2 linked regions of the Homo sapiens genome follow. The protein of the gene in region 1 purifies or fractionates together with the protein of each later gene. This does not show direct contact. Each region holds a gene or a part of one and is shown on either strand. Other genes may lie near its edges.

The links.
Region 2: the proteins of SEPTIN4 (region 1) and NUDT14 purify together in Homo sapiens (affinity purification with mass spectrometry; one large-scale study listed by BioGRID and IntAct). This does not show direct contact.

What each region holds. Positions count from the first base shown.
Region 1 is NC_000017.11:58,534,130-58,537,938, forward strand, and holds part of SEPTIN4 (septin-4), read right to left. Parts: intron 3,327-3,809; coding exon of another isoform or gene 3,250-3,326; intron 2,080-3,249; coding exon of another isoform or gene 2,076-2,079; exon of another isoform or gene 1-2,075. UniProt on the Homo sapiens protein: Filament-forming cytoskeletal GTPase. Pro-apoptotic protein involved in LGR5-positive intestinal stem cell and Paneth cell expansion in the intestines, via its interaction with XIAP. May also play a role in the regulation of cell fate in the intestine.
Region 2 is NC_000014.9:105,172,408-105,175,653, reverse strand, and holds the end of NUDT14 (uridine diphosphate glucose pyrophosphatase NUDT14), read left to right. Parts: exon of another isoform or gene 1-166; intron 167-2,392; coding exon 2,393-2,633; 3' UTR 2,634-2,715; downstream 2,716-3,246. UniProt on the Homo sapiens protein: Hydrolyzes UDP-glucose to glucose 1-phosphate and UMP and ADP-ribose to ribose 5-phosphate and AMP. The physiological substrate is probably UDP-glucose. Poor activity on other substrates such as ADP-glucose, CDP-glucose, GDP-glucose and GDP-mannose.

The sequences.
Region 1 (3,809 bases):
ACCACGGAACTTAGCTCTAAGCCAAGAATATTGGGGTCTAATCTCTTTCTAATCACTGTACCACAGGCCTAACATGAGGCATGCTGGGTGAAATAAAAGCTGAAGACTGACTTTGAGCCATCCCACCTGCACAAGCCCTGCATGCTAACCTACTGCAGCATTCGGAGAGCTCTGAGAGAACTTGGCCTGGGCACAAGTCCCATGCCAACTTGGCTATTATCTCACTGCCTGAAAGTCCCTTGCCCTCTCTGGGCCTCTGTTTCCCCCACTGAAAGAGAAGACTGGACTTCTCCCAAGTCTAGCTCTTACATTCTGTGTGATGGAGGCAGGGTCTAATACCTGCAGGGCCAAGATACAGCAGCCCTTGCGTCAGTCACTGGGGATTTACCGAGTGCTCTTCCTCATCTCCAGCCAGCAGGTGGCCTGGCCAACTCTGCTTCAGCATGGCTTAACTCTTGGAGCGCTAGTTCTCCCTCAAAATTCAACATCCCACCAGGCATTGATGGCCTTGACTACAGTACAACTCCCCAGGCACTGCTAGGGCATGGTATCTGAGCCAAGTGTCTAGGGGAGTGTCTAGCTGGGAAACTCAGCTCAGCCACCATAGCTCTAGCCTGCTGTCTTGGGCTCCGTTGCTTAGGTCAGGCCAACATGATATGTCCTGGCCCCCTCCACTAGGTCTTTCCTGCCCACCCATAGGTGCAGGTTGTATGGCACAGGACCTAAGCAAGGAGGCTGCATGTGGGCCATCCCAGGGCCCAGGTTCAAAGCCGATAATAAAGAGCAATTACCACAGGAAATCAGGATTTCAGATCTGCATGACTAGCAATGGCCACTTCTGCCTTTCAGTAGCTAAGTTTCCCTAAAGTGGCGCAAGAACTAATTGTACATCCCTTCCCCAGTGAGATAGATGAGTCACTGACGATACAGTCAGAGAGTCCTTGGACCAAAGGCTATCACTGGGTTGTGTCTTTCAAGGAAACCTCAGCAAGTCTGTCCAACAAGGTCTGTGGTGGACAAAGGCAATAAACCAAAATACATTAAGCCCAAATCTTCCCCCAGCTGCTGCCATGTGTCCCATGATCCTGGGGGCAGGCATAAGGTGTGGGTGGCAAGGCTGGGGAACACTGTGTTTCCTGGCACCTGCTGAATGGCTGCAAAGAGGGGCAGTTCCAGAGCTGGCAGGGTGCTAGAAGCCAGCCACTCTGATAGGGCAGACAGTCCTTCCAACACCCTCCGTGAACAGGGCAGGGCCATAGGAGCTCAGGGTTGGAAAGGACTTACAAACCTCCTAATGTGACTACTCACCAGATGTCTGAAGGCTCCCCTGCCTTCCCAGCCTCTGCTCGAATACATACCTCCGATGGCCAAAAATTCACTGATTCTAACAACTGCCCTTCAACCTTTGGGCTGCCAAGTTACCAAAGTCTTCACTATACTGAGCCAAAATCTGTCTTTCCCTGGCTTTTACCCTCCATATGCCTCCATGCTGGAAGCTTTGCTGACTCATTTCATTGGACTTTGCTTTGTCCTTTGATGTCCACACCCTTTCAAGTGACCCATCTGTATACTTTTCTCTACCAAATTCACCACAAGCTCCTCAAGGGCAGGGACTATGTCTTTTCTTTTAACCTCTGCTCACTTCAAATCAGCAAACATGTGATGTGATGTTTTTCTGGGTGTCCAGGCCTCTGCCCCCAGGAGATGGCTGATCAATATGGATTGACTAAAAGGACTCATTGATTAGTTTTCCATTCTGATTTTAGAGCCCAGACAAGCCTTGAGGCTCTGCGCTTCATTGACCCTTCACTTGCCCTTCATCCTGGCTGCTCACAAGCTCACACCCACCTCCCAGCCCCGTGGTTCACATACAAAGACACAGATGTTACTCTCACTAAAACCTTTCCCTTCACAATTCTTGATATCTAAAGGTGCTGCTGAAATATTGAGAAGTATTTTCCAGGGAGACGTGGCTATAGAAGAAGGGTTTCTATACCATATAGTTGACTCCCTGGGACAGACTGCTCCTTAAAATGCTTCCAGCTTTGATGAACAAACTCTGAGCCTCAATTTCTTCATCTGTGAAATAGGGAGAATAAATCCACTCATAGGTTACTATGAAAACCCACTAATGCACTTAACATGATCACTAAATGAATGGTAGCTATTATCTCCATTAATAAGAAAATTATCAACATCAAACCAGTAACTGTCAACTGTGACTATTTCAAATGCCTTCCCTCCAAAGGATTTGGAGTGTGCATGTGTAATAGGTGTAGAGAGATGGGAGGACAGAGAATACCAGAGTAATGCCTTAGATTAAATTGACATTGGAATGACCAAGCCGCCACCACCTGTGGAGTCAGCTTCTCCAGCTAGACACCATCTCTAGAAAGCTGGTGCTTGGTCTCAGACCTACCGACCCAAATTCCCAGAAACAGCCACTGTGGAGACCTCTGGAACTAGATGACTTTGCCGGCAGTGGGTGTGCCAAGGAAGCGACACCCACAGTGTCAGCCTGAGCTTCCCTCAGGAACTGCCTCACATTCTGTCCCCCTCCTCCAGGCTTCATTCAGCCCCCAAGGTGCAGCTGTCTCCTGCTGCTCCCCTAACAGCAGCTGAGCCAAAGGCAGCTGAGCAGAGGAGGGTGAGGGGACATGGCCATTTCTGCCTCTCAGGACAGCCTTCCTCTGGCTGAGCACCTGTCAGGGTGGCTCCTGGGTTACAGATTTACTTCCTCACCCAAGTATGCACCCTGGCCTCTGAAGCCAAGCTCCCTAATCTACCCAGGCCCACTGTTTCTGTTACTTGGAAAATCCACCATTTCAAACAGCACCAAACTACTCTGCAGAAAGATGTGATGTTGGAGATGGGTTTCAGTCACCACACACCTTCTGAAAATACACCAAAAAGTCCACAATGGATGTGGCAGATTCTTCCCTATGTGGGACTATTCTGGGCAAAACAAAGAACTAAGGGAGTCTGGCCTCAGCTCTGCTATCAAGTCTGAGAGAAAAGCATTGTATATTCCTGCCCCCATTTTATAGGCAGAGGGAGTAACCTGCCCAGGTCTCACTGTGAAGCCAGGACATTGTTCCCTCTGTGCTTCCAGGCAGACTGCACCACAGCTTGTATTAGGTGACCACCTGTCCTGGTCTGCCCAGGATTGAGGGGGTTCTTGAGACATGTGACTTTCAGTGCTAAAACCAGCAAAGTCCCAGGCAAACCCTGATGAGTTGGTCAACTTACCCTGTCCCCAGGTTAGCAAGTCTTAGCCAGAGGCCACCAGCCTTCCATCCTGCTCTGGAATTGGCTGCCCATGGTAGCTGGAAATGAACAGGGTGCCATCTGACAGGGTAAGATGCTTGCTTCCTAAGAAGCTGTGCAACAATGGTCAAACTGCTATAAAAATCCTCCCAAGGCCGGGCGTGGTGACTCATGCCTGTAATCCCAGCACTTTGGGAGGCTGAGGTGGGTGGATCACAAGGTCAGGAGTTCGAGACCAGCCTGACCAACTTGGTGAAACCTCGTCTCCACTAAAAATACAAAAACTAGCTGGGCGTGGTGGCGGGTGCCTGTAATCCCAGCTACTCAGGAGGCTGAGGCAGGAGAATCACTTGAACCCAGAAGGCAGAGGTTGCAGTGAGCCGAGATCGCGCCATTGCACTCCAGCCTGGGTGACAGAGCGAGACTCTGTCTCAAAAAAAAAAAAAAAAAAAGCCTCCTGAGATGCCCTGCCCCGTTTTCAGCAGTTCTGCTCCATTCTTTCAACAATTCTTTCTTCTCAACTACGAGCCTCTGCCCAAAGC
Region 2 (3,246 bases), on another chromosome or scaffold:
CCGAGGCAGGCGGATCACCTGAGGTCAGGAGTTCGAGACCAGCCTGACCACATGGAGAAACCCCGCCTCTGCTAAAAGTACAAAATTAGCCAGGCGTGGTGGCAGGAGCCTGTAATTCCAGCTACTCAGGAGACTGAGGCAGGAGAATCGCTTGAACCCAGGAGGCGGAGGTTGCGGTGAGCCTGAACCCAGGAGGCGGAGGTTGCGGTGAGCCGAGATCGCGCCATTGCACTCTAGCCTGGGCAACAAGAGCGAAACTCTGTCTCAACAAAACAGAATTTCCATGCCGAAGGGTGGACTTGGGTGTGAAGGATGGGCCTTGGTTTTCTGCAGGTGTCTACCCCGTGGTGGGCCACGCCCACTGTGCCCCCAGCTCCCCAGCCCATAGTACTGAGCACAGCCGGGAGGCATGGGAGGGGCTGGAGTCCCCTTGGTCCCCCTGGAGGAGGTGGGCCTGGGCAGGTTCCTGGCAGAGGGACCGCACAGGCTCTCAGGGCAAGTGGTCAAGCAGCCCTGGCCGCGGTGGTTCTACTGGTACAGCCTCTGGGCCACAGCCTGATTGTGAGGGTGCTGGGGAGCCAAGGAGGGCTCTGGGAAGTAGGCATCCTGCTTAGACTCGCATCGGGAAGAGCAGGCCGTGGCTTCAGGGATGCAGGACTGGAGATGCTGCTGACTAGGGGTCAGGGTGTCCGTCTCTGAGGGCCTGATGGGGGGCTGGACTGACAGCAAAGTTCACCCACCCTGTGGCAGGGCCCGTGGCTCCCTGTCTCTGATTCTGGAGGTGAGCCAGGCCTCTTACCTGCCGCTGCAAAGGACAAGGCCCAGGGAGGCAGTCAGCTTGGGGCGTGATGGAGTGAAGTTGGAACGTGCCCTGGGGTGGGGGAGGCGTTGCCCAGCCTGGCTGGCAGATTCCTCTCAGCCCGGGCCAAGGGCCGGGCCTGTCTCCTTCACAAGCCGGCGGAAACCGGGGCTGGAAACCCCAGACCCGCCACTTCCCTCAGAGGCGCAGCCGCGGCCGCCGCCGGAAATGGGCCATCAGGAAGGGGTCTGCGGGAGGTGAGGGGCTAGAGGGCAAGGAAGCAGCTGGGTAAGGTCGGTCTGGGGTGAGTCCCCCCGGAGGTGGGGAGGCCTTGGGGGTGGGGCATGGAAGCCCCCAGTTCTGTCCCTGCCCCTGTATGTTGGGTACATCTCAGAGGGCGGCCTCTACCCTGCAGGCCTCCGGCTGGCCTTGGTTCATGGCACCCGACAGCCCCTCCTGCGGCGAGCCAGGGCTCCCCCACCCCCTGGTCATCTTCCCAGATGCCCCTCAGTCCCGTTTCTCCCCAGATCCACACCTGGCCCTCCCCCTCCTGTTCCAGAATGCAGCCCAGCCCCTCTGCCATCCTGTCCTCCTAGCCCGTGGTCTCCCTCCACACACGCCAGTCCAGGCTCCTTCCCTTGGTGCCTGACCCCTCCTGGCTGCCAGCAGCCCCCTTCTGGCCACTGCCCACTGAGGGAGGGGGCTTCCTCTTACCCCTCCCCAGCCTGGGCCACTGGGCCTGGTACTGAGGACCTCGCTGCCACCCCACCCCACTCTGCCATGCTACGGGGGGTGGGGGGGCGGTCAGTGCATGCTGTTCCTAGTCTGAAACTTGTGTCCTGTGGGTGCCTGGTGGGGAACCCTTGCGGGAAGGCCTGGTGGGTTTGTCCCTGCTTCCCAGCCAGCCTGTGTCCCCGGGTATGGGCTGGGGTCTGGCATGGGCCTCTGCAGCTGGCCACAGACTGAGGGGCTCCAAACAGCACTGGGAACAGCCTCAGGGTATCTGGTTGGGGGCTGCAGACAGGGGTGGGGTCTTCTGCTTGGCCTTGACAGGTTGCAGGCAGGTTGTCAGCCGGATCTGCAATCTCATGGGGGCTTGGGGTCTTCCCGGCTCACGAGGTTATGGCAGAATTCAGCTCCTGGTGGCTGGGGACTGGGTCCCACCTCCCTGCTGGCTGTTGGCCCTTCCCAGCATGGCGGTTGCTTCCCCTTCAGGGCCAGCAGGACTGGCCTGAATTTCTCCCTTTCTGGCGTTGAAACACCCTCTGGAGGGCTTCGTGATCGGGCCATGCCCGCCTAGGATGCTCTCCCTTCTGATGAGCTCAAGTCACCGGTTAGGGTCCTTAATCACATCGACAACACCCACCCCACCTGGCGAGTACAACGTGATCAGGGAAGGGATGCCCTGCTGCGGGAGGGGCCACGGGCGTGCACACCAGGTGGGAATCCGGGTGGGAGAGGGCATCCCAGAGTCCTGCCTACTGGAGGGCTGGAGGGAGCAGAGTGGAGAGGGTGGGTTGGAGGGTGGTAGAAGGGCCAGGGGGCCAGCGGGGCCAGCGTGGGTGACTCAGCAGACCCTGTCTCAACCCGTAGGTCTGGAGTGGGACTGACTGGCTCCAGACAGACCATGTTCTACACAGAGGTGACAGATGCCCAGCGTAGCGGTCCAGGTGGGGGCCTGGTGGAGGAGGGTGAGCTCATTGAGGTGGTGCACCTGCCCCTGGAAGGCGCCCAGGCCTTTGCAGACGACCCGGACATCCCCAAGACCCTCGGCGTCATCTTTGGTGTCTCATGGTTCCTCAGCCAGGTGGCCCCCAACCTGGATCTCCAGTGAGACTCCAGGGTTCTAGACAGAGGCCAGTCTTGGCCACTCACCCCACACCCCGCGGACCCCAATAAAGGCTTGCATAGCTCCAGCTTCTGCCTGCTGGTTCTGAGCTCTGTGACCAGGGCCTTGGAGAGGACTGGGGAAGGGGCGGGAAGCAGTGACCCTGACCTGAGATGGCCCTCGGGACACGGCGAGCTCTCCTGTAGGAGGAGTAGCTGGTGGCAGGCCATGCAGGTGGTTGCTGTGGGGCTGAGGACAGGCCTGGGGATGCCATGGGCAGGGCCAGGCTGTGCCTCCTCTTGGAGCTGGGAGGGGTGGGGTCCGGGACTCATGGAGGGTGGCATGGCAGGCCTGGGGGTGGGCCTGCTGGTCACGGGGCTGCAGCATGAGCTGTGCTCACGAGAGTGGTGGCTGAGCCAGTCCTCAGGAGTTAGGATGGGGTGGGCAGCACTGCAGGCTGCACGCTGCAGGGAAAGTATGTTCCCTGCTCCTGGGGCAAGTGAGGGGTCCCCACCCTGACTGGGGCTGGGCTAGAGCCACTCCACAGGAGCCCGGAGCCAAAGCTGCCCTGTGTCGGGGGCCCCAGTAGCTGATCCGTGCACCCCCAGCCTTGGAAGTT